Homo sapiens: one gene and its partners. The protein of the gene in region 3 purifies or fractionates together with the protein of the main gene of each other region. This does not show direct contact. Each region holds a gene or a part of one and is shown on either strand. Other genes may lie near its edges. The genes, in order: GLB1, NT5DC2, KLHDC9 and CTSA.

What was found.
Region 1: the proteins of KLHDC9 (region 3) and GLB1 purify together in Homo sapiens (affinity purification with mass spectrometry; 2 studies listed by BioGRID and IntAct, with this or other methods). This does not show direct contact.
Region 2: the proteins of KLHDC9 (region 3) and NT5DC2 purify together in Homo sapiens (affinity purification with mass spectrometry; 2 studies listed by BioGRID and IntAct, with this or other methods). This does not show direct contact.
Region 4: the proteins of KLHDC9 (region 3) and CTSA purify together in Homo sapiens (affinity purification with mass spectrometry; 2 studies listed by BioGRID and IntAct, with this or other methods). This does not show direct contact.

The regions. Positions count from the first base shown.
Region 1 is NC_000003.12:33,010,122-33,017,150, forward strand, and holds part of GLB1 (beta-galactosidase isoform a preproprotein), read right to left. Parts: intron 6,720-7,029; coding exon 6,588-6,719; intron 4,190-6,587; coding exon 3,935-4,189; intron 1-3,934.
Region 2 is NC_000003.12:52,523,875-52,530,874, forward strand, and holds the end of NT5DC2 (5'-nucleotidase domain-containing protein 2), read right to left. Parts: intron 5,461-7,000; coding exon 5,276-5,460; intron 5,062-5,275; coding exon 4,987-5,061; intron 4,819-4,986; coding exon 4,763-4,818; intron 4,666-4,762; coding exon 4,572-4,665; intron 4,438-4,571; coding exon 4,309-4,437; intron 4,200-4,308; coding exon 4,139-4,199; intron 4,058-4,138; coding exon 3,955-4,057; intron 3,845-3,954; coding exon 3,743-3,844; intron 3,502-3,742; coding exon 3,420-3,501; intron 1,422-3,419; coding exon 1,335-1,421; intron 1,230-1,334; coding exon 1,089-1,229; intron 1,008-1,088; coding exon 943-1,007; intron 858-942; coding exon 596-857; 3' UTR 513-595; downstream 1-512. Other genes in the region: STAB1 (stabilin-1), read left to right, coding at 1-143, 226-339, 426-482. UniProt on the Homo sapiens protein: Promotes dephosphorylation of tyrosine 3-monooxygenase TH which decreases TH catalytic activity and leads to reduced synthesis of catecholamines including dopamine, noradrenaline and adrenaline.
Region 3 is NC_000001.11:161,093,731-161,100,864, reverse strand, and holds KLHDC9 (kelch domain-containing protein 9), read right to left. Parts: upstream 2,505-7,134; 5' UTR 2,330-2,504; coding exon 1,803-2,329; intron 1,520-1,802; coding exon 1,360-1,519; intron 1,287-1,359; coding exon of another isoform or gene 1,268-1,286; coding exon 1,069-1,267; intron 805-1,068; coding exon 641-804; 3' UTR 519-640; downstream 1-518. Other genes in the region: PFDN2 (prefoldin subunit 2), read left to right, coding at 6-182.
Region 4 is NC_000020.11:45,894,335-45,899,349, reverse strand, and holds the end of CTSA (lysosomal protective protein isoform b preproprotein), read right to left. Parts: intron 4,701-5,015; coding exon 4,609-4,700; intron 4,528-4,608; coding exon 4,449-4,527; intron 4,357-4,448; coding exon 4,217-4,356; intron 2,386-4,216; coding exon 2,310-2,385; intron 1,634-2,309; coding exon 1,544-1,633; intron 1,346-1,543; coding exon 1,241-1,345; intron 984-1,240; coding exon 900-983; 3' UTR 530-899; downstream 1-529. Other genes in the region: PLTP (phospholipid transfer protein isoform a precursor), read left to right, coding at 287-409. UniProt on the Homo sapiens protein: Protective protein appears to be essential for both the activity of beta-galactosidase and neuraminidase, it associates with these enzymes and exerts a protective function necessary for their stability and activity.

The DNA of each region.
Region 1 (7,029 bases), on a different chromosome or scaffold from region 3:
GCTGGGTTCTATGGTAATCTATGTTTAGCCCTTGAAGAAATTGCCAAACTATGCTCCCAAATGTACCTTCTTATCTTTCTACCAGCAATGTGGGAAGATTCCCTTTCCCCCATGTCCTTTCCAACATTGCCTATTGTCCTTCTTACTATTTAGCCATCTTGGTGAGTGTGAAGTAGTATTTCATTTTGGTTTTGACTTGCATTTCCCAAATGATTAATAATGTTGAACATTAATCAGCCACTAATTTTAGTTTATAATAGACATTTTACCAAAGAAGGTATACAAATGCAAATGTACTTAGCCATCTTATGCCTTCTTTGGTAAAATGTCTATTCAAGTTCTTTGCTCCTTTTGTGACTGGGCTGTTTGTCTATTATTGAATTGTAAGAATTCTTTACATATTCTAGATATAAGTCCTTTGTTAGATATATGATTTGAAAATTATTTTTCTCCCAGTTTGTGGCTTGGATTCTCATTTTCCTAATAATGCTTTTTGAAGAACAAATATTTTTAATTCTGATAAAGTCCAATTTATCAATTTTTGTTCTTTAAGGATAATGCCTTAGGTGTCAAATCTAAGAAGTCTTTGCCTAACCCAAGATCATGGAGATTTCTCTCCCTAGAGAGAAATTTTAGAAGTTTTATAGAGGAATTAAGTTACAAATTAATAATTACAAGATATTTTTACAAACCCAAAATATGTGGAAATTAAACAGCATACTTTTTTTGTTTGTTTGTTTTTGTTTTGTTTTTGAGACACAGTCTTGCTTTGTCACCCAGGCTGGAGTGCAGTGGCATGCTCTTGGCTCACTGCAGCCTCTGCCTTCCAGGTTCGAGAGATTCTCCCACCTCAGTCTCCCAAGTAGCTGAGATTACAGTTACTCACCACCACGCCTGGCTAATTTTTGTATTTTTAGTAGAAATGGGGTTCTGCCATGTTGCCCAGGCTGGTCTTGAACTCCTGGCCTCAGGTGATCCACCCGTCTCGGCCTCCCAAAGTGCTGGGATTTACAGGCATGAGCCACCACACCCAGTAAAACATACTTTTTAATAATCTATGGTTCAAAGAAGAAATCATATGGGAAAGTAGAAAATATTTCTAACAGGATGGCTGTGGTGGCTCACACTTGTAATCCTAGCACTTTTCGAGGCCAAGTTCACATAAAAACTTACATGCAAGTGTTTACAGCAGTATTATAATAACTATAATAACTATAAGTTGGAATGAATTCAGATGTCTATCCTAGCACTTTTCGAGACTTCATTTGAGGTCAGGAGTCCGAGATCAGCCTGGCCAACATGATGAAACCCCGTCTCCAATAAAAATAAAAAAAAAACAAAAAATAAAAAATAAAATAAAAATAATAAAAAAAATTAGCCAGGAGTGGTGGTGTGTGCCTGTAGTCCCCGCTACTCTGGAGGCTGAGGCAGGAGAATTGCTTGAGCCCGGGAGGCAGAGGTTGCAGTGAGCAGAGATCACACCACTGTACTCCAGCCTAGGTGACAGAGTCCATCTCAAAAAAAAAAAAAAAAAAGAAAATATTTCAAACAGAATAATGAAAATACATTTCAATAAATTTTAAACAAGCAACACATAAATAAATAAAAGGGCATTTTATTAAACACACACCATGTACATCTTTTGCCTTCTCCTCCTCCAGCTATTAACATAATTTTCTCCTCTTCTTCAGAATTAAATTTCTCAAAAAGAACGTTTATATTCAAGTATTCCTGTTCGTATTCCTTACCCTGGTCTTCTCTATAGAATGCAATCTGGCTGGGAGATGCTTCACTCCACTGGAACAAGGCTTACTGATTCCCAAGGGCCTCCTTGCTTCTAAAACCACCGAAGTGCTTCTGTCTTTATCTTATTTGTCCTCTTGGCAGCATAAATGCTGGTTTTCTTCCTACTTGTTTGGTCTCTCCTCTTCAGTCTTCATCATGTTTTTGTCCCTCAAACATCAGCCTTACGTCCTCTTTTCTTCCCTCTGCATCCTCTCTCCTTGAGAGACCTCATCCAGCCCATGTTTTCAACAATCATCTATACAACAATGATCTTCTACATACATTCCTGGCCCAGATCCCTGCCCTGAATTCCCAGCCTATAGATCCAACAACCCTCCTCCAATACTGTCTTTCCCAGCCATTCTCCAAGGCCTCTGCTATGGTCTGAATGTTTGTGTCCACCCAAAACTCATCTGTTAAAATTCTAGCCCCCATGTGATGGGTTAGGAGGTGGGGCCCCCTCTGGGAGGTGATTAGGTCATGAAGGTGGAGCCCTCATGAATGAAATTAGTGTCCTCATAAAAGAGACCCAAGAGAGCTCCTTTGCCCCTTCAGCCATGTAAGGACATAGAGGGTGCTGTCTATGATGAAGTAGACTCTCACCAGACAGCAAATCTACTGGTGCCCTGATATTGAAGACTTCCTAGCCTCCAGAACTGTGAGAAATAAATGCCTGTTGTTTATAAGCCACCCAGCTTATGGTATTTTGTTATAGCAGCCCAAATAGACTAAGGCAGCTTTTCAAACACAATTGGTCTAAATTCAAACTCATGACCCCCCTTTCTAAGCCTAAGTCCCCTTCTGAAGCTGCTTCTTTCAGCAAATGGTACCATTCTGCCCAGCTGCAAGCTTGAGACCTGAGTCATCCGAGACATATCCCTCTCCCCAAACCCTCCTGTCCAATCCATTGTCACAATTTATTGATCCAACTTTGAACATCTCTCAAATAGTTGATGTCATCTCCATCTTAGATACCACCATCCCAGTTTCTCAATGAGACTATGGTCCAGCCTCCTAGATGGTTTCCTCGAATCCATAAGTGTCCTTACCCAAACCATTCTGCACAATGGGGTCAGAGGAGCTTGTCAGATCACAGTCTTATCATGTCACTCTCCTGCTTCAATGGCTCTCAACACAAAGACAAAACTTTAACGTGGCCTATAAGGCCCGTCCCAATCTAGTCTCTACCTACTTTCCACACTTGACATTTTCCCCTCCAACCCCATGGCCTTTGCACAAGCTGTTACCTCTCCCAGGAACATGCTTTCTTCCCTTCTTGCCATGCTAATTCTTACTCATCCTTCATATCTCTGACAAGCATCACTATCTTAGGGAAGGCTTCCCTGACCTCCCTGACAAGGCAAAATGCACCAATTATTATCAACCCCATAGCCCTTCTTAGCATCCATCACAGCTATGGTTTTACTTTTTAATATGAGTCTGCCTCCCTCACTAGACTGAAAGTTCCATGAGGGAAAGGACCATGTTTGGTTTTATTCATGATTGTATCCTTAGTGCCTGGCACACACCTTGGGCACATAGTGGCCACAGAATGAGAAGTGTGTTGAATGAGTGATGGTAAGGTGATCTAGGATGAAAACAGGACATGAGGGAGAGGAGAAGGCGGTGAAGGAAGATATGCCAATGTCTTCAAACGACAAGGCGGAGTGACTGGGAAGTGAAAATGGATGAGGAAGAGTGGAGAAGCAGACAGCTTATGATAGAAGCCCCAGGGGTGTGGGGCTGGATGCAGGTGGGGATATTCTGGGAGCACTGGGCTTGGCATAAATGAAAACCAGACAGACTCTCCCAGAGGGATCCACCTCTTTGTCTTGACTGGATTGTCCTCAAGATAAAGAGAAAGCACCCCTATAATCAGCATCAAAAGGGGTCATGATTCTTCTTGGAGGAGGCAGGATGGTGTCATTCACTACAGGAAGCCAATGACAAGGGGGCAGATGGCAGCACCTCCGAGCTGGCCACTGAATCCCTGAAGATCTGCCACAATCCGCCTCCTGAAGAATGTCCGAAACGCCACACTCAAAACCATCACACGATATCTCACTAACAGCTCTTTGTGATTCTTTCTCAGACACTAACAACCAAAAGTTTAGGCCTGAATTCAAACCCTTCCCATGAAGACACGTACCTTGGTCCATCCAGGAAACTGGATAAAGGTGTCCTGGGGCAAGTCTGGGATCCCACTGGGAATGGAGAAGTTCCCCATATAAAAGGCCGGGAGCGTGTAGTTGGATGAGTTGTGGGCCCAGGCTTCATCATGGTGGCCACTGTCACGGTGTCCCCAGCCCCCCAGGTGGCTGCACACTGCATCCTCAGTGTCCAGTGGAAAGATCGTCCAGTCCGTGAGGATATTGGAACTGAGAGTCAGGTTAGAAACCAAACCCTGCAAAGCAGAAACAGAGCACAGTGAGCTGGGGAGGGAAGGAAAAAGGCTTCACATGTCTCTGCATTCCAGGGAAATGGGAAAAGCAAACCGGGATACAAAACACCAACAGGAAATGAACCTCGAAATATGTGTACATCGAAGTAACACAGATCTAACTGGAGGTTGAATTACAAATCCTTGGGAAGAGATATATTCCCCAAACTATAGCTTTCTCCTTTGCAGGTCATGATGTCTCTATAAAAGGCCCAGAGTTTCTGCTTCTACAGAAAGGGCATTGAGTTGCTAGAGTGATTGATCCCAAATTCCCAAATTTTCAGAGTTTGGCTGAGAGCCACTGCTAGAATAGAGAAAGATGGGCACCAAGAAAGATGGGCCAGGCGCAGTGGCTCATGCCTGTAATCCCAGCACTTTGAGAGGCCAAGGCAGACAGATCACTTGAGGTTAGGAGTTCAAGACCAACCTGGCCAACATGATGAAACCCCATCTTTACTAAAAATACAAAAGTTAGCTGGGTGTGGTGGCAGGTGCCTGTAATCCCAGATACTCAGGAGGCTGAGGCATGAGAATCGCTTGAACCTGACAGGTGGAGGTTGCAGTGAGCTGAGATCGCGCCACTGTACTCCAGCCTGGGTGTCAGAGCGACACTCCATCTCAAAACAAAAAGGGATCCAGTCTCTACAAAACATACAGAAATTGGCCTAGTGTGGGGGCATGCACGTATAGTCCCAACTACTTGGGAGGCTGAGAAGGGAGGATTGCTTGAGCCCAGGAGACAGAGGTTGCAGTAAGCCGAGATTGTGCCACTGCGCTCCAGGCTGGGTGACAGCAAGATCCTGTCTCAAGATGGAATCTGGGGACAGAAGGAATGAGTGAGTGTGGGATACAAAGGAATAGTCATCCCACTGCGGATGGAGCAGGTACGACGGATGCAGCCAGGAGCAAATATTGGCCTTGAGCACCTCAGCCATCATCACAGGGAGGACCACACCCGAGTCACTCACCTGTTATGAGGGCCAAGTGAGATAACATACATGAGAATACTGTGATACCTTAAGAGGATAGGAAGGTAATGATGACGATGGCAAACCTCAGACCTGAATTCAGAAGCTGCTCTATTTGTTCCACACAGGCCAGGGCTGGGCTGTCAAGGCTCAGCTAACTTCCCCTTCCCTGGCTTGTATGTAGGGAACTTCCCCATTCCCAGTGGAATCCCAGATACCAAGTCTCGATTGCCCATTTAATAATTTGATAAATATTAACCAGGTGGCTGTATGTCAGGCTCTTTGACAGGTACTGGAGACCCAGAGACTACACAACAGAGTCGAGTCACTCCCATGGGTCAATGTGGCCTGTGAGAGCCAGGCAGGAGGCCATGAAGTCCACCCTGAGCACAAGAACTATGAGAGAGACATTTATACTGGAGGCAAAGGTGGCCTGCACACAGCTATTCCCTAAGTTCCCTAAGATGTAATTGCCTGATCTCAAGAGGGTCAGGAAATAGCCCCAGACACCTGTCCTGCCCTAGCCTGGGTGGTGCCATTGTTCCCTTGATAAGGCATTCTCTCCTCTCGCGGAGGTTGAGCTCCCTGAGAGAAGCCTGTCTCTTGACACCTTTGCATTCCCCAAAGCACCTGGTGGGGCATCTCGCGGAGTGGGAGCTTAACAAATGCTTGCTGAATAATGCTCTAAAAATATGTGTTAGAAAAACTTATTTGGGCTACACATCTGGACACAGGAGTAATCAACAGAGGTGAGAGCCAGTGCCCCAAGGGAAGAGGCTTCCTACAAGTGAAGAGTTTGCCACAGGCTAACCATCCAAACCCATAAAACAGGGCAGAACAGAGGCTCAGCTGGCTTTACTGGCAAAGGAGTGCCTTCAGTGAGCTTGGTGGTCTTTTAAAGCAGAGGAAAAGCATGGTGGAGGGGCTTCCTCCTTCTGTTTCTTTCTATAGGATGACCAAACTCAAACACAGGGGAAAGGTTCTGTTTGCAAAGCTCAACTTTCTCATCACCTACAGAGGAAAACAGCTCTTCAAAATAGCTCAACTACTTCTTTTTTTTGAGACAAGGTCTCACTTTGTCACCCAGACTAGAGTGCAGTGGCATGATCATAGGTCATTTTAATCTCCAACTTCTGGACTCAAGCAATTCTCCTGCCTCAGCCTCCTGAGTAGCTGAGACCACAGGTGCATGTCACCACACCTGGCTAAGTTTTTAATTCTTTGTAGAGGTCTCACTATTTTACCCAGGCTGGTCTTGAACTCCTGGCCTCAAGTGATCCTCCTGCCTTGGCTTCCCAAAGTGCTGAGATTACAGGTGTGAGCCACTGTACTGGGCTTCAACTTCTAAGTTGTCACCCCTTAAACCTTAGTCTTGACAGTGTGGTTTGTCCTACCTTAAAATCGTTGATATATGCACCATAGTTCACACGTCCCATGTTCTCTACCAGAAGGTCCAGAGTGGCTCCAGCTTTCCCTGTTATGTTCAGAGTGATCACATTGTTTCGCTCAAGGACTCCCTGGGGGATCTGTGGGGTTCAAGACCAAATGACAATTGAATTGAGGGTAAGAAGGTCAGCAAGGAGAGGCAGCATGCTCAGTTAATTTAGCACTCATTTTCTTGCCTTGAAGTGTCACCAGACTTGGAAAGAAATGCTTTGATAGCATCTTAGCCCAAGTTACCGGCCAGGTCGGAAAGATCCCCCAATCACTGCTTCCTAAACAGGAAAACTGCCAGACACAGCTCAGAGCATGGAACGGTCTAAGCTGGTTTCCTTTGCCCTGGAATGTTTTACTGCCAACTACTTTTAGTGGAAAATTCCAGGGGAGGATTCTTAC
Region 2 (7,000 bases), on a different chromosome or scaffold from region 3:
CAGTGCTGGCGCCTGAAGCCCCACCTGTGGCGGCAGGCGTGGGGGCTGTGCTTGCCGCTGGAGCACTGCTTGGCTTGGTGGCCGGAGCTCTCTACCTCCGTGCCCGAGGCAAGCCCATGGGCTTTGGCTTCTCTGCCTTCCAGGTAGGGCTGGGTTGGGGCTGCCATGGCGGGTCCTTGGATCTCGCTTGAGGCGCCTCGCCACTCACCCCTCTGCTGCTCCCAGGCGGAAGATGATGCTGATGACGACTTCTCACCGTGGCAAGAAGGGACCAACCCCACCCTGGTCTCTGTCCCCAACCCTGTCTTTGGCAGCGACACCTTTTGTGAACCCTTCGATGTAAGCATGGAAGTGAAGAAGTGTGGCAGATGTGGGATGGGCCCAGGCCCTGGTCACACCCTCCACCACCAACCCTGCTCTTCTAGGACTCACTGCTGGAGGAGGACTTCCCTGACACCCAGAGGATCCTCACAGTCAAGTGACGAGGCTGGGGCTGAAAGCAGAAGCATGCACAGGGAGGAGACCACTTTTATTGCTTGTCTGGGTGGATGGGGCAGGAGGGGCTGAGGGCCTGTCCCAGACAATAAAGGTGCCCTCAGCGGATGTGGGCCATGTCACCAAGGAAGGGGGTCTTCATGCAGCCGGTGCAGAGCTGGTCCATCCAGAGGGGTGCCTCGTGCTGCAGCGGCGTACGGCGTGGGTAGAAGGTGAAGTCCACGCGGTAGTTGAGCAGGCAGCTGAGGGAGGCCATGTAGAGGTCAGAGAAGCGCACGAGGCGCCTTGAGAAGTAGGTGGGGTTGTGGAAGGTGCGGAAGATGCTGCCGAACTGCGCATTGAACAGGGCCTTGGTGATGCACCTGGCGAGGGAGACACGATGCGCTCAAGGGGTGGGCCTGGGGTGGTGGCTTGGCTGGGACTCCTGCCCTGGCCCCACCTGCTCACCTCAGCTCCTGCCGCTCTTTCATCCAGGCAGCCAGCACCTGCCTCGACTCCGCGTCCTGATAGGTCTGGGGACACAAAGTGTGCATTGGGTGTGTGCACCCAGGAGGCTACCGCCCTGGCCCTCCCACAGCCACCCCGGCCCACACCTGCATGCGCTCCAGCAGCCCCGTGAGCGCCTGCTGCCACGTCAGCGAGTGCATGTACTGCTCCGTGTTGATGATGCGGATCTCACGCTCCAGCTCGGGGATGATGGCGCCTGTGCGCCAGCCGTGCCGCAGCATGAGATCCTGGTGGGTGGGGCGGCAGAACTGGGCTCAGCGCCAGTTGCTGGGGGCGGGGGGGGGGGGGTTTCCTGGCCCTCCCCCACTGCAGCCCAGCCCTGCCTCCCTCACCGCCAGATCACTATAGAGGTGGTCCCCGAAGTAGAGCACGCGGGGGCCACGCCATTCCGTCAAGCGTAAGAAGTCAAACAGGTTTCCCTAGGGAGAGGAGGGGAATGCTGCTGAGCCAAGTGTGCCTTGTCCTCCACCAGTCCTCCCTCCCGAATCCCCAGAGGCAGCCCAAATCCAGCCGGATGCTGGCTGCCCTTTCCCATGGCCTTGCTGCTCCCTCCCTGGGCCCTGGTTCTTGTCACTTTCCCCTCCTACTTGGGAAGGGGATTCTGCCTGCTGCAGGAAGGTGCCCTACAGGCCTGGCATGGTGCCCATGCCTCGAGGGCCTTCTCCCTGTGGTCTCACACGTACCCCAGGTTAGGGATTAGATCCCTGTTTGTAAGGTAGAAACTGCAGGGAAGGCTCTGCAGCCCTGAAGTCCTTGCTGGCCTCCCCTGCCTCAGTGCAGAGGGACCTGGCAGACCAATGGCAGACCTCACCGGGGCCACCAGCATCTTGGAGCCAGAGAAAGATGGAGACACTCAGCCAGGCCCACATGTAACTGGGGAAGCTCACAGGGTGGCAGAAACTGAGCGGCCCAGAGCAGGAATCACCAGACTAGTGCTCAGGCAGCAGCCACCAGGGTAGGAGTCCACACCCCAAAAGCGAGAATAATTGACACCCAGCAAGCACAGTTCTTGAAGCAGTCTGTGCATTCCAAGCCTCAGAAGTGGAAGCGCTGGGGGAAACAGGTGGTGTGGGAGAAGCCAATTGCTGAACTAAGTTCAAGTGGAGGGGCAGAGGCCCAGGCAGGCCCCAGACCAAGAGAAAGAGTCTCAAAGGGCAGGAGACTGACAGACTCCTAGTGACTGACAGGCAGGATCCAACACACAGTGGAAAGCAGCTTCAGAATACTGGGCATAAAGAACTGCCTGAAAGCTGCCAGGGAAGAAAGTCATGTGTTTCTCACAAAGGTGTATGACCCTCTTTAGCTGAGGCTGGATGCCAAGGCAGGGGAGAGCAGCGCCCTCAGAGCTGAAGGGACGCACCTGGGCCCGAGGGCTGTGGAGAGTTTGGGTGCGGAAGGGTGGGAGGCAGAGAAGTGGGCAGGGCTGAGAGGGTGGGGGTGTTTCCTGCAGGCCAGGCTGGGCATTGGCCACCTCCACATTGCTCCCCTGGCCAGCTGCTGGCTTCCCCCTCCTCCAGCCCCAAGGCCTTTAGAACCCCTAGCCTGAAGAAGCCCAGCTCAGCCAGGATTTCCGCATTCCAGCCAGGGCTAAACCTTAATCACTGCCTGCTCATAGACACCTAATCCCACCTCAACACCAGTCCCTCTCATTTTCCTAGCCAGGTAGGAAGGAGGAGTTTCTCTAGATCACCCAGTGAGCTGCCCCCAACCAGACTTGTTCTGGCTGCAGCAGAGTGCTCAACCCCAAGAAATGACACCATTCATCAGGCATTTCACGATCTCTGACCATTCTTGTTTTTTGAAGACAGGGTCTTGCATTGTTGCCCAGGCTAAAGTGCAGTGGTGTGATCACAGCTCACCACAGCCTCGAACTCCTGGGCTCAAGTGATCCTCCCACCTCAGCCTCTGGAGTAGCTGGGACCACAGGTGCATGCTACCATGCCCCGCTAATTTTTTCTATTTTTAGTAGAGATGGGGTTTCGCCATGTTGGCCAGGCTGGTCTCAAACTCCTGAGCTCAACAAACTATCCTGCAGCCTCAGCCTCCCAAACTGCTGGGATTATAGGCATGAGCCACGGTGCCTGGCGCACTGGCCATTCTGAGAGCTTTATACCACAGCTTCAGTAGAGAGTATTACACCTCTTTTGCAGACAAGGGAAGCAAGGCACAGAGGTCAGGCAACCAGGCCAGGCTCCCTCTGCTGAGTAGTGGAGTTAGGAATTCAAAGCCAGGCTGCTTGACCCAGAGGTCAAGCTCTCGAGGCCACCCAGACCTGCTCCCTGCCAGCCATTGCCTGTGTGAGGCTGCTCAGGGCCAAGGAGCTGTGCTGCTTCTTCAGAGGCTGCCTCTGCACAGCCTGGGGCCCTAGCTAGGCCCCATGCCCCCACCACATGCTGCTCTCCCCAGATGGCCCTTACCTGCCGATAGATCTTGCCCTTTTCCAAGCGGGTGATCCGGTCCCACTGAAGTGAGCCCTTCTCATCGAGTTTTCTGAAAGGCCTGGGGTGCAGGTAAAGGGCATGACTTCCAGTCTGTGGCTGGGCCACGGGCCGGGCAACCCCCATCCCTCCTCCGTAAAGGCCCACCTGCTCAAGTGGACCCATGCCAGCAAGGGGGTGTTCTCACCCCAAGCACATTGGGCAGTGGGCAAGGGCCAGGTTGGCCTCCTGCTTCAGTCCCCTCATTGGGGTGGGGCCTCTATTCCCCTTCCCTGGCCCTGCAACCCCCACCATGCCCATACTTGCGCCGGTCAGTGAAGAAGCTGGGCTTGTCTGCCTGGACAATGACCACATCGAAGAGCTGGCGCCAATCGGGACCCACCATGTGCCGCATCCCCTTGTCTCTGTGTGGAGGAGTTTCAGGTGGCAAGTAGTCTGAGGGCGGCTCCGTGCCTGCCCTCCCCACCCAGAGCCCTGGCCCTGCTGTCCCTCCATCCACAGGGGCTGGACTCACACGAAGCTGAAAGGACTGTTGGTGATGAGGAACAGCTGTTTCCCATGGGCCACCAGGCGGCTCAGGACAGCAAACGTCTCATCCCCTCTCAGGATGTACTTCTCTAATGGGGCAGATGAGTCTGTGAGGGTCAGTCCTGCCACCTGCTCAGGCCGGCCACGGCAGGGCTTCTGTCCACACTTACCCATGTCCTGCTCGATCCACTGGTACATGAGGCCCTTCACATGCACGTCTCGGATGGCGTCCTGGGGGCAGTGGAGGACAATGAGGGTACAGCAGGGCCCAGGTGGGGCTGTCCCACTGTGGCTGGACTTAGTCTTTCCTGCCATCCGAGGGCAGGCCCAGCATCCTCACCGTCACGTCCTTGTAGAGATGTGCTTGGTCAAACTCCAGGCTGTGGCCCAGAAAGTAGTCCACCACACAGGACAGCAGAGCCATCTCCGGTAGCGAGAAGATGTCCATGAACTGCTTAATGGAGGGACCCTGGGGAGGGGGCCATTGTCTCAGACACCCTTTGGGACCCCAACCCCTTCAGTGCTGGAGACGAGGGCCCCAAATCTGCCTTGGGACATGGGCACATGTCCATGGGGCAGGCTGGCTGCTGGGGTATGGAGTACCTTGCCATAGAAGCCACTCATCTGGTATAGTGGGATGTGCTGGGTACCCCCATACAGCTCAATCACCTCCTCGTCTGGCACAGGCTGGAGGCCCCTGAGCAGGCCCAAGATACCATCAGTCCAAGGTAGTCCTGAGCCAGAACAGCAGTGTAGGGTGGGGCGGGGGTGGGGTTGGGGCAGAGCCGACTGACCTGTAGGCTGTCCCCAGCTGCACGTAGTGGAAGGCGTCAATCTTCATCAGAAGGCTCTGGGGGCGCCAGGGAGGCAGGACGGATGGTGAGGAGGCAGTTTCACCGTGGCCCCAAGCCAGCCTCTTTCAGCCCATGCCAGAACCCCAGCTGGATGGGACGGAGGGGTAATGACCATACCAAGAGGAGGCCAAGGAGGGAGCCCCTATACAGGTCCAGCCACTCACCTTCTGAATGTCATAGTGGAGGCCACGGATGGCAAAGCTGGGGTTGTAGTCATACTTCCGAATCCCTTCTGGGTACTGCCGGGGGAAAGGGGCCAGGCCTAAGCCAATAGCCCTGCCAGACCTGCTGGCTGGGTGGCCACCCCAGGGGGTCAATCCAGCCACCTGCCCAGGGCAGCTGCCAGGCAAGAGGGCCAGGGGAGCCCCACGACTCAGCCCTGAGCTTAGGCCAAGGTGGGTCTGGCCAGCCTCCAAGCCCTGGGTTTGTTGGTGGCAAGGACCCCCGTCTCACCTTGTAGTGCTCGATCAGGATGTCACGGGCGGTACTGAAGATCTCGGGGTGCAGTGCGTCTGCATACTGGGCCAGGGTGTAGTCGTAGTCAAAGCCGTAGACCTCAACGTCACGCAGGCTGATCTCGTTGTTGGCGTAGATGGCTGCTGGGTTCAGGAGACTGCAGACCTCGGGGGGCAGGAGGTCTAGAGGAAGGAGATGCAGGGAGGCAGTGATGGGGATGATGATCCCTGCAGCAGCTATGGCTCCTGAGCACTCTGTGGGGACCTAGCCCTGTGAGCCTCAGAAACGCCCCACAATGGCACCTCTTATTCCAGTGCTGGAGATGGTCAAACAGGCCCAGAGAGAAGTCACTTGCCCAGGGTCACGCAGTTAGGGTAAGGCAGAGCCCCTGGCTGGAGCTCCTCCTCATGGTTACACCTGCCTACATTACACTATCTCCTATAGCCCACCAGGTATACTGAGCCCGTGACTACTCCAGGCCCTCACCACTAAGCCCCATCAGACACAAGGCCATGCTAGAACCCTGGCAGCAGTCACTCAACTCCTCACCGCCTAGCCCCAGAACAGCTGCTTTTGGGATGCTCTACAAAGCAAAGCCTCCCACTTGCTCAAAACCCGTGCAGGAACACCACTGTCTGGCCCCCCACAATTCAGCGCCTCCTCTGCTCCTCTCAGCTGCCCTGCCCTGCCCCCTGGCCTCATCTCTCAGCCTCCCTGGGATTATGTGTGAGGATACCATGTGGGCACTGAGGACTCCAACCCAGAGGGGCTGGCTCTGTATGGCCAGACTAGGGGGTTGAGGCCATGGATGCTGACTTTTCTACCTTGCCCAGAGCTGGGACTGGGGCTCAGGAACATTAGTGGGAGGGGGAGCCCCTCTGCCGATCGGGCTGCCAGCTCTGTGCACTTCCCACAGCCCAGGGAGAGTGAGGCCCCTCTAATCAGATTTCAGCTGCCCGCAAGCCCATATAATGACATTTGCTGGCTCTAGCCAGGGAACATTGCTAATTACGACAGTCAGGACGTGATGTCAGGTTCTGGGCCATTATCCAGGTTGCTCCTTCTGGGGATGTGGTCGTGGCCACCCCAAGTCCCTGGCTGCTCCCAGGAGGCTGCAGTTGGCTTTGAGGCCCACAGCAGGGTGCTGAGCAGAGCACTGTGTGGCATGGGCTCTGGGGTCCCAAGGAGGCAGATGGGGCTGAGAGGCCCCATGTTACCTGCCCTGGTTTCCCTATGTGTACAATGGAGAAAGTGGAAGGGAAAGGAAAGGGAAGGAGATGTGCTAGGAAGGCCACATGCAATGAGGTCAGCCAGACAAGACCAGGCCCTCCCTCTCATGGCTATGACTTCAGGAATGTCACCTCACCTCTTGGGCCTGTTTCCTAGTTTCTAAAAGGGTACAAAAAATTGTACCAAGTGGGGCATGGTGGCACACACCTACAGTCCCTGCTACTCAGGAGGCTGAGGCGAGAGGATTGCTTGAAACCCAGTAGTTCAAGACTGGTCTAAGCCATATAGCGATACCCTGTCTCTGTGAAAACATTTTTAAAAAGAAAAAAAAAATTGTACCAACCTACAGAATTACTAAGACTGTCATATGGAAGGTGCTGCTCTGTGCAGCAATCTCACTCTGCACCTGCACATATGCAGGATTAAATGGGTGATATGTTTCCTGAGCCTATGAGCATCCTGTCCCCAATTTCCCAGTGTCCCTCCAGAAGC
Region 3 (7,134 bases):
TCTAGATACAGAAGATCATTGAGACACTGACACAGCAGCTTCAGGCAAAGGGAAAAGAACTAAATGAATTCCGGGAAAAGCACAACATTCGTCTCATGGGAGAAGATGAGAAGCCAGCAGCCAAGGAAAACTCAGAAGGGGCTGGGGCTAAGGCCAGCTCAGCTGGAGTGTTGGTCTCCTAGGGACCAAGGCCTTTGCATTTTTTTCTACCCTGACTCCCACTTCTAATTTCTCTTTATTGTTATTATTATTATTTTCTCTGCTATTGTAATATTTTTTTGTTAATTAAATGTTTTGGTCAGAATCTTAGCTGTAGCCTGAAGTTTTCTCCCACTTGGGGGTGGAAATTGTTTTGAGACACGGAACAGCATATGATGTGTGGTTTTTGTTTCCATCAGGTTAATGACTCATAATATGAGAGTAGGACCCATATTTATTTTATCCTTTCCTTGCAAATAAAGGTATGTCCACTTATTTACTGCCCTTCCCCCTCCCCCCAAAAATTTCAGAGACAAATCTTGAGTCTCAGATTGAAATTTAATAAGCATTTGAAGTGAAGCAGATAGCTCTGGTGATAACGCTTTATAGGTTTGCAACAAAGCAAAACAAAACGAGGCTTAGTGATGTGTCTTGGCACTATTTAGATAAAGTCCAGGATGCAAACCTGTGGACTGGCTGTCCTGCCATCCTCACCAAAACCCCCAACCAGGTAAAGCTGATCATTCCAAAGGCAGGTGCGATGGCCCATGCGTTTCATCCCACGATCTGCACAGGGGAAGTGGAACCACAAAGGAGGAGATGTGCCTGTTGGATACGGGCAGAGGGTGGTTATTGAGGCAGTAGCACTTTGTCATTCACAGAATTCAACATGACCAAGGGCTTGCCCATTGTTTTTCTGCTCACTTGATTTGTAGGCCTCTTCAAATGCTTAATATTCTGTGTACTCCTTTAACTCCTGTCAACTAATTTTTCCTCCTCCCTACCCCATCACTCCATCCTCTTTCTGTAGTCTTCAGGTTCCCCCATCTTCCCACCTTCCCCCCCTTCAGCCATTAGTCTGGCTCTCACGAGTATCATAGATGTAGAGATCATTGCAGATGGTGTCTCTAGCTCTGGTCAGAGTTTCTCCACCAAACAGCACAGCAAAGGGCCCGACCACAGAACATGAGTGATGCCGTAGTCCATGGGGCCCCTTCTGGGACCCCTGCCCACTGCTCACAAGCCTTGCAAGCTGTTCCATCAAATGAGGAGCAACAGGTGGTTCCTCCTTGGGGAGAAAGAAAGGACTGTCCGAAGAGACCTGGGCATCACAATTTTAGCCTCTTCCCATCCTAAACAAGATGTGTGAGGAGCTAATACCTTAATTTTCCCATGACTCCAATGCCCAGCTACTTCTGGTTCAGCTAAGTTGCAACCTCCAAAGAGCAATAGCTGATGACCTGGATGGGGTCCAGGAGTTTGGAGCAGGGCCGCACAGTGACCTGAGCGTGAGGCTGTGTGGCAGCCTTCTTGCTTGTAGCTGTGGACATGCAGAAATTCAGGGCTGAGTGGGTTTTCTGGAAAATGTAAGTGCCACCGCCCTTGCCAAGGATGGATGGAGAAGAGGCATGGGGCAGTGCGGTAGGTGGGATAAGAGGGAGGGTAATACTGTAGAGAGCTCAGCTAGCTTAAACATGGTAGGTTCCCCTGGAAGGAGGGTGCTAGAGTGAGGAGGTGGATAAATTGCCTGAGAAATCTGCTTAGGCTTTTGTTTTTCGAGAGTGTGGATGAGAGTGAAAGGTTTTGGGCGGAGGGTGCCATACCAATAGGTGCGGGCGCTGGGGTCCAGCCTTAATGTGTAGATGCTTCCATAGCGTCGCTGAGTGTGGATACCGCCCTCCCGGCCAGCCACCTGCAGCTCTCGGTCAGAGATTCGGGTGCAGGTGTGACTACTGAGGCCGGCGGGGGGGCAGTCACCAGGGGTCCCTGTCCACGCCTCCCACACACCGCGCTCTGTGTCCAGTGCGGTCACTGTGGCCAAGCGGCGAGACCCGTCCCAGCCGCCCACCACGCAGAGCCAACGCCCGTCCACGGGTGCCGCGTCGTGGTGACTGCGCGGGGGGCTGCCCCGGGCTCCCAATCGTACGGCCTGGCCCCTAGCTGGGTCGAAAACCACCGTATCGCTGCTGGGCTCTCTCGCTCCTCCTGCTAGGAGACCACCTACGAGATAGAACCGTCCCCGCAGTTCGGTGCATGAATGGAAAGCTCTAGCCAAAAGCGCGTCCCGCGCCACTGGCCTCCAGGCCCAGCCTGAGCCTGCGGCCCGACCCGGGGGCACGGCCACCGCCATGGGCCCCGGGGAGAGGGAGGGCGGTGGGGTCTGCGGCTTGGAACGAGCCCCTACATGGCAGGCCAGGCACCTCGCCTTCCGCGGGCTTCCCCGGGAACCTCCCCCTACCGGACGCCAGCCGGGGTTCCCACCTCAAGTCCCGGCTTTCTCTCCGTGGTCGCCCAGCAACCACTGCAGCGGCTGCAGCGCGACCGCTGCAAACCGAAGGTCGCAAAGCAGCAGTTACCGTGGAGACAGGACACCTGGGTGGCTATCGGGAACCGTATGGTGGTGCCACCAAGGCTACGGGAGCTGTATCAGGTCAATAAAAATCCTGCAAGATTGTTAACCTCAGAAAGTCGGAGGACAGTCGGGTCCTTAGAATAAACCCCTGTGATCTCCGCTGTGAACTGATTTGCGATTTTGACATTTGAGGTGCAGGTGCTGCTCCACTAGGGCCGGGAGGGATCATTTGGCTTCAGGGTTTCTTACTCGGGCTAACCACCCCAGGGATGAGCAAGGAAGGAGAAGCAAAAGTCAGAGGGTGGGGAAGTGAAAGTGGACTGACCACTGGCCCGAGAGACAGGAGACCTGGGTTCTAGTCCCAACTATGCCCCTGACCCTCAAAGGCATTGTTTCTCTCTAGGCCTTCTCAGTTTTGTCATTCATCAAATAGGCTGTTCGTTTATTCCCAAAGGCTTGAAGGTCCCGATTGATTGGGTGGGAGAGTCCTTTCAGCTCTGGCCACTAGAGGGTAGCAGAACCCAGTCTCTCAGGTGACACACACACACACACACACACACACACACACACACACACAGAGAGAGAGAGAGAGAGAGAGAGAGAGAGAGAGAGAGAGAGAGAGAGATAGAGAGAGAGAGAGAACCCACGCAGCCTTAGAAGGGTGAAGTGGGGGAAGAGTGAGAAAATGAGAAAAACAGACTCCTACCCTTCCCTGATATCTTTTATTTAAGCCAGTTTCCAGATATTAACTCTGTCCCCCAGGACCAAGTGATAACTGAAGAGGCCCAGATGCAAGCTTTCTGCTTTCAGCTGAAGGAGGAAATACAGACAGAATTTTCCTCCCAACACAGCTGGTGTGGGGCAAAAACAGGATCTGTGTCCTCTGGGACTGGGCTGTAAGTGGGAATGATGACTGCTACTTGTGGCCTTTGGTTTCTACACATCACCTTGCTCCCCATCATACCTGAGATACTGAGACCATAGAAAGTGGCCAGGCAGGAGAATCACTTGAGGCCAGGAGTTCAGGAGTTCAAGACCAGCCTGGGTAACATAGTGAGACCCTGGCGAAAGAAAGAAAGAAAAAAAGAAAAGAAATAAAGAAAGGAAGAAAGGAGACAGTGGCCAGGGCTGCAGTGAGGATGGGCATGTAATGCAGGGTCTGATAGCACAGCAGGGCTTTCCCCTCCTCTTCCCAACTCTTGGTCCTCAGAGAACACAGCATGGGGATGGCATGGGCAGGAAAGGCACAGTTACAGAGATTGGAAGATTACCAGGACCTGTTCCCCACCTGTACCTTAAAGCCAAGATTCAACAATAGCTTTGAAAGTCTCTGCCCTCCCAACTATAGCTTTCCCTGAGTATGACAGGCAGTATTCTCAGTTTTCCAAAATCATGGTAAGAATCTCTAAAAAATCACTAACTTTTACTGTCCTTGGCTGAAATTTAAAAGTCAGTCTTTTCCCTCAGGCTTCTTTCTCACTGGCTAACCTCCCAACAGCTGGATTCAGATCTGTCATACTCCTAGGATTAGGCAAGGGCTTGCCTCAGGGGTGGGGCAATTTTGCTTAAACCTTATTGGCCTATATGTCCATTTTAGGCTCTTGCTTTTGCCTAAGTCTTGGCTGTTCTGTTAGACTTACTTTCTGCCTTTCCTGGATAGAAATGGGAACTCCCCACCCCACGGGCCTTTCCAGCTCCTCTCTCCCAGCTTCCTCTCTGACTCTGAGTCCTTAGCAGTAGGCATCTTAGTTAGACATAGAGCTTGAACCTCACATACTCCTTGGCTGTACCCTCTCCAGTTCTGTACCTAGATGCTTCCAGTTCCTCCTAATAGCTGGAAGCATCTGTCCATTGCTTTGCCATCCCAAGACCCTGGGAGAGGAACTGCCTAGGACTCCTACCTTCTTAGGTTAGTTTGAACCAAATCCATATTTTGGAGGAGGGAGAAAAGAAGCCAGAAAGAGAGAAACAGAGAGAGGAAGAAAGCAAACCAGCCAACCTGGACTTGTATGACACATGCTTCACACCGCAGGACAGCATCTGCAGTGGTCTATAATGACCTTGTCAATGATACACAAACTGAAAGGGCATTAAGATAAGTGAAAGGGGGAACTGAGAGAAAATTGTGAGAGACAGGGAAAAGGGCAGCCAGGGCTGTGAACCTGCTTTCACCTGCTAATAATATCCAGGGACAACCTCTGTCCAGAAATGAGAGCAGGGACTGGATATCCTGAAAGTCTCGTAATCCTGATGTGATCCCCTGATGTTGGCTTTGTCTCAGTTGGCCAAGAGTCTATATGATCTCTAGCAAGCAAGCACCCAGCTTCCTACCTAGCCTTAGATGTCTATCCTAGCCCCAAATCTACGCCCCCTTGCCTCAAACTTTCACAAAGCTCTTACTCTATCTTCTCCCTTCCTTAACCCCATTTTCTGACCCTGGAACCATCTCTGGTTCTTAGCATTATTCGGTACATACAGAAAACCAACAATTGGGCTGGGTGTGGTGGCTCACGCCTATAATCCCAACACTTTGGGAAGCCAAGGTGGGTGGATCACTTGAGGCCAGGAGTTCAAGACCAGCCTGGCCAACATGGTGAAACCCCATCTCTACTAAAAATAAAAAATAAAAAATTCACCAGCCGTGGTGGTGCATGCCTGTAGTCCCAGCTACTCTGGAGGCTGAGGCAAGAGAATCGCTTGAACCTGGGAGGCTGAGGTTGCAGTGAGCCGCGATTGTGCCATTGCACTCCAGCCTGGGTGACTGAGAGAGAAAGAGAAAGAGAGAGAGAAAGAAAAGAAAGAGAGAGAGAAAGAAAAGAGAGAGCGAGAAAGAAAAGAGAGAGAGAAAGAAAAGAGAGCAAGAAAGAAAAGAGAGAGAGAGAAAGAAAAGAGAGAGAAAGACAGAAAGACAGAAGGAAGGAAGGAAAGAAAGAAAGAAGAAAGAAAGAAAGAAGGAAGGAAGGAAGGAAAGAAAGAAGGAAAGAAAGAAAGAAAGACCAACAATTGCACCAAACGGTCTTAATCGCACTCAAGACTCCCACAGTTCCCTCTGCCCATGTCTCCCAGGCTGTCCCCATCCTTCAGGCCCTTTCTTTGACTCTTCTTCTGCTGTACCCTGACCCTTCTCTATTTCTCACACAGCTCATTCTAGCTGCTTGACTTCCTGGCCCTATGCCATCCTGGCCCCATTTCTGACTCTTTGCTCTCAGCTCAGCCAGAATAAAGACAGGGACAAAAGGACAGAGAAATGACCAGGCAAAGAGACTGCATGAGGTCAGATCTTGAGAGCTCCTTTGACTGAATGTGAGCTAGAAGGAGATTGAGAGAAAGGTGAAATTGTAAGCAGGCTTTAGGGTGGAGGGGAGTGGTAATCAGCCAAGGTAGAGAATGATGGAGAGGTGGAATAAGGATGGGGAGAAGCTTATGTTGTTGAGGGAGTAGGCAATGTTGAGTAGGAAAGTATCATTGGGTCATTGCTGAGCGGTGGGAATTGAGGGCAGAAGACAGAAGGACTTTGAGTAATCATGGCATCCAGAAATTTCTCTTCGGGTCCTTCTGTCTCTGTTTCAGATTTTGTCTTGGCCACTTCAGCCACTTTGTCTCTTTGAATTCTCCCCCTTCAATAACTCGCGCGCGGGCGCGCGCGCGCATGTGTGTGTGTGTGTGTGTGTGTCTCCAATACAATCCCTGACTTACAATGGTTCAACCTACAATTTTTCTTTTTCTTTTTCTTTTTTTTTTTTTGAGACGGAGTCCTGCTCTGTCACCAGGCTGGAGTGCAGTGGCACAATCTTGGCTCACCGCAACCTCCGCCTCCTGGGTTCAAGTGATTCTCCTGCCTCAGCCTCCTGAGTAGCTGGGACTATAGGCACGCACCACCAAGCCCAGCTAATTTTTTGAGTTTTTAGTAGAGACGGGGTTTCACCATGTTGGCCAGGATGGTCTCGATCTCTTGACCTCATGATCCGCCCACCTCAGCCTCCCAAAGTGCTGGGATTACAGGTGTGAGCCACCATGCCCAACCCAACTTATAATTTTTAAACTACAGTGATGCAAAAATGATAGCGTGTTCGGTAGGACCCATACTTGAATTTTAAATTTTGATATTTTCTAGGGCTAGCGACTGGTATATTAAATGCATTTTCAACTTATATGTTCAGTTTGCAATGGGCTTATCAGGACATAACCCCATCATAAAAGTCAAGGAGCATTTGTATATTTTTCTGTCTTTAAGTTTCCATTTTTCTCACTGTGCCTTGAGATCTGTCTCTCACTGTTTCGACTTTTGTGTTTTTCTCTCTGGGTTACTGCCCTTTTTTTCCTGCTGACCAGAGCCAGCCATCTGACTTTCCTGCAAGGAGCTTTAGAACTTTCCAGAAGTGGCCAGACTTCTTCCCTTTGGCTGCTTTCTAGAACTATAGCACCAGTTTGGGGTCCCCGGGCACAGTCATAAGGTCTCAATTTTTGATGAAGACCTGAGTGAGCTTCAATACATAGGGCCTTTTCAGGGAGTAGAATTTCCCCACAGTGGGGTCTTAGTGTCAAAATAAAGATATTTGTCCCTTAACCCATACTGTGGTCCT
Region 4 (5,015 bases), on a different chromosome or scaffold from region 3:
TTAATCTTAGACTCCTAAAAGCCGTTGCACACACTGTGACTTCTTGGAGCACTCTTCTCCCATCCCAATACCTACTAATTGTTCAGGTCTTAGCTCAGAGGTCACCTCCTCCAAGAAGCCCTCCTTGACACCCATAGTCTACACTCCTACAGCCTCATTTTAACACCTTGACATGGAATTATCCATTAGATTGAGTTCCTGAAAGACAAACACTCTGTCTCTTGATCTCTAAACTCTGGCCTCAATAACTGAATGAATAAATGAGGCTCCCCTCTCCCCAACACAGGGATTCCTCACCATCGGGGCTGATCTCCACTTTGCCAAAGGGCTGCGAGAGGTGATTGAGAAGAACCGGCCTGCTGATGTCAGGGCGTCCACTGCCCCCACACCGTCCACAGCAGCTGTCTGAGCCCTCAATCCCCAAGCTGGCAGCTGTCATTCAGGACCCCAACCCCTCTCAGCCCCTCTTTTCCCACATTCATAGCCTGTAGTGCCCCCTCTAACCCCCAGTGCCACAGAGAAGACGGGATTTGAAGCTGTACCCAATTTAATTCCATAATCAATCTATCAATTACAGTCCGTCCACCACCTCCCTGTGGGCTGTCCTGAGCTCTGTTGGGTTCCTGGGATGGAATCAGTGCATCATAAAGGGCATTCTTTAAGCAGAGAAGGGGCCAGGCCACCCCATTCAGGAACTGCTGCGGGAATAAAGTGCTAACTTGCCCCCAGGCTGTCTATGGGAGACCCTGGGCCCAGTCTGGGATGTACAGGGCTCTGGGAAGGGGGCAGTCCTGGCGGCAGAACCCGGCCTGCAGGGGCACTTTGCTTAGAAGAGGACTCTCCTAGCGGGAGAGGCTGGGAGGGGCTGCATCAGGCCGTGGAGCTGGTTGCTGTGGTCATCAGTATGGCTGCTTGTTCAGGAAGCGGGAGAACATGGTGAAGGCAGCGAGGGGCTTGTCGGTGGGAACCATGTGGCCGGCGCCCTGAGGAGCAATGTTCGTGAGCTCCTGACCCCACCATTCCCTCCTCCCCATATAACTGCTCACTCGGGGGCAATTCCTTCATCCCAAACCCTTTATTCTTCCCAGAACCCTCCCCACCCCTCTCCAAAAAAACTTGCCCATACAGGGGCCAGATGGTGACCCATGACCCAGCCTAAAAGGCAGCCAGAGGGAAAGGACGGGTGGGTCCTGCTCCTTTGCCTCCGGCCCAGTTATCTCTCAGCAGGCCCAGTCCCTACCTTGATCGTGAGAAAGGCGATGTGGGAGAACTCCTTCACGAAGCCGGCAATCTGCTCCCCGCTGTCCCCGTACTTCACTAACCAGGGCCGGCGCTGCACCTCCATCTGCCCCACCAGGAAAGACATCAGCCTACAGCAGCTGCATCCTTGCTCACAGCTACCAGCAAGACCTTAGGGCTGGGAATTCCTCCACACTTGCCCTCTGTGGGCCAGAGCCAGGCAGCCAGCTGGCCACTCCCAGGCATACCCGCTCCCAATCCTCCACAGCAGCCCCTATCCCAGGGCCAGGAATCTCTACCTTACCTTCTGGTTGAGGGAATCCACAAACCACTCATCCCCCATGAAATTGCAGGCCATGTCTACATCTCCATTATATAATAGGATCTGGTATTTCTAAAGCAGGATGGGGTAAAAATGAGGGGTGTGGAACAAGCCCAGTCCCCAGCCCTTCCCTAGTTCAAGGCCTACCCCTCAGGAAATTCAAGGGGCCAAGCTAGATAACACGAACCAGGGAATTTTCATGTTTTCTAACGACTTACTGCATGTCCAGTATTCTACTAAATGTTTTATCTGTGAAGGTAGATATCATTATTATCCCCATTTTACAGATGGAGAACCTGAGGCTCATATTTAAGAAATTTGCCCAAGATTATGTGGCTAGTACAGGGACTTGCACCCAGGCCATGTGACTCCAGAGCCCATGCTATTAACCACTGTGCTGGACAGAACCTAGTCCTAACTTGGCCCTGCCAGTGCTTCCTATATCACCTTGTGCAAGGTCTCCTCCCACCCTGGACCTCTGCTGGCCCATTTTTGGCATGAATGAAGCTCTTCTCACCCTTAAGACTCCGTGGCTGATGCAGACCCCTAGGCCTCCTATAGCAGGACAGCATGGGTGGGGACAAACCCAGGTTCAAATTCTGACCCCACCAATCACAGGACCCTGGGCTTCGCCTTTCGGAGTTTCAGCTTCCCTTGTCCTGACAGGAAGTCTCAAGGGCCCCCAGCTTGCTGTGCTACTCTGGGGTCCTAAGGCTGCTGGTGATCCAGCTGTGCTCTCCCCACTCACCTGTGAGCTAAGCAGCTTCAGATACTGGGAGTTCATGCTTCGGTAGAGACGGCGGTACTGTAAGTTTACCAGAAAGCTGCCGGGAACATACGAGCAGGCCCCAGGAAGACCAGGTCGGGGCGAAAAGTAGTCAACAGATCAGACCTTCTCTCCTATCTCCAAGCTCCAACCCAGAAGGCAGACAGCTGGGTTCCACTCCCCTTTTTGGGGGGGGGCCACCTCTCTAGGACTGACTTGGATGTTGGGCTGGATGGGCTGGGATTCAGACAGCCTCAACTCACCACCATTTAGAAAGGTACAGGGATGCTGGGCGTGGTGGCTCACGCCTGTAATCCTAGCACTTTGGGAGACCGAGGTGAGTGGATCACGAGGTCAGGAGTTCGAGACCAGCCTGACCAACATGGTGAAACCCCGTCTCTACTAAAAAAAAAAATACAAAAATTAGCCAGGCGTGGTGGTGCGTGCCTGTAGTCCCAGCTACTCAGAAGGCTGAGGCAGGAGAATCACTTGAACCCGGGAGGCGGAGGTTGCAGTGAGCCAAGATCGCAGCACTGCACTCCAGCCTGAGTGACAGCAAGACTCCATCTCAAAAAAAAAAAGAAAAAGAAATGTACAAGGGACGCATTTTGGTTGTTACGAGGACTGGGATGCATCTGGCATTTAGTGTCTAGGGGCCAGCAGGTGTGGGAGTCACAACATACAACAGGGTAGAGTGTGAGCACTGACCAATCAAAATGGACCTGAGCAGCCCTGCTGGGCCCAGTGTTACCCTTTTACTTGGGGTTGTGGGGGGGGGTGGCCACAGGAGACTGGACATGGAAGTTAACAGTTTGTTATTGTTGTTTGAGATGGAGTTTCACTTTTGTTGCCCAGGCTGGAGTGCAGTAGCATGATCTCAGCTCACTGCAACCTCTGCCTCCTGGGTTCAAGCGATTCTCCTCCCTCAGCCTCCTGAATAGCTGGGATTACAGGTGCCCAACAGCACACCTGGCTAATTGTTGTATTTTTAGTAGAGATGGGGTTTCTTCATGTTGGCCAGGCTGGTCTCGAACTCCTGACCTCAGGTGATTCCCCCACCTCAGCCTCCAAAAGTGCTAGGATTACAGGCGTGAACCACTGCGCCCAGTCGGAAGTAATAGTTATTAACCAATGTGATGGCCGGGTGTGGGGACCCTCGCCTGTAATCCCAGCACTTTGGGAGGCCAAGGAGGGAGGATTGCTTGAGACCAAGAGTTTGAGACCAACCTGGACAACATAGTGAGACCCTGTCTCTACAAAAAAATTTTTTAAAAATTAGCCAGGAATGGTGGCATGTGCCTGTAGACCCAGCTACTCAGTAGACTAAGGTGGGAGGATCGCTTGAGCCTAGGAGGTTGAGGCTGTAGTGAACTGTGAAACAACAACCAATGTGGCTACGTAATGAAATGGGGCTGGGCGGGGTGGCTCATGCCTGTAATCCCAGTACTTTGGGAGGCTGAAATGGGCAGATCACTTGAGCCCCAGAGTTCAAAACCAGCCTGAGCAATGTGGTAAAACACCATCTGTACAAAAAATACAAAAACTTGTTGGGGGTGGTGGTGCGTCTGTAGTCCCAGCTACTGGGGAGGTGGGAGGATTGCTTGAGCCCATGAGTTTGAGGCTGCAGTGAGCTATGATCACACCACTGCACTCCAGCCTAGGTGACAGAGTGAGACCTTGTCTCAAACAAAAAAATTTTAAATTTAAAAAAGATAAAAGAATGAATTGGCTGACTCTCAATCCACTGAGGGGTCAGGGATGGATGTTAAACATCCTCTACAGCTCATCTCATTGAGAAACTCTACACAGAAGATCCCTGAGAAACCTGCCGATGCCCACAAGCCCCAGCAACCCACCACCCCAAGTCACAGGTGGCCACGGAACCTCACTTGCACATGTCCCATTGTGGCAGCTGCTCCGGGATGTTGAGGGCCTTCCGCACGTACGGGTTGTTGAGGTAGGTGGAAGCAGCTGTTGTGTTGGTGCAGGGGGGGTCCATGCGCACTTTATCCCCTGAGCGCAGCAGTGCCTGGAAGGCACAGACAGTGGGTCAGGGCCTCTGCTTCCCTGCCCCTCCCCCTGCCCCCACCTCACCAGGAGGAAGCCCACGCCCTCGCACACCTGATGCCACATCCGCTTGAGTGGCAGGCGAGTGAAGATGTTGCCCAAATCCTGGACCACAACAGTGTCCTTCTCATACCTGCAATGTGAGGTGGGGGAATGGGTGTGGAGCCTCCAGATGGGGCTGGGGTTGGCTCCAGGGGCACCCAGCAGCACCTACCTAAAATGGCTGGGCACCCCTCCAGCACACGGGGCATAGAGATTGTAGATGTTGAGGCCAGAGTTGCCCACGATGCGGGCCACTTCCTGAAGCTGCAATGATACACCAAGCCACCATGCTTTACAGATCCCCAGCCTCTCCACGACCCCACCAAGTTGTCCCAAGATTTACTGCTCTTGGATTTCACCTCTTCACCCACTTTTTTTCACAGGTAGGGAAACTGAGGCTCAGTGGCAGGAATCTTCCCAGACCTGGGTCCAAATCCTAGCATCACTGCCTCCCAACACTGTGACTTCAGACAGTGATTTCAAAATTCATAGCCCTCAGTTTCCTTATCTGGAAAATGTGGGTAGTATGATCTCATTTGAGGGGGAATCTTGAAGCTTAAATAATCTACATAGACACAG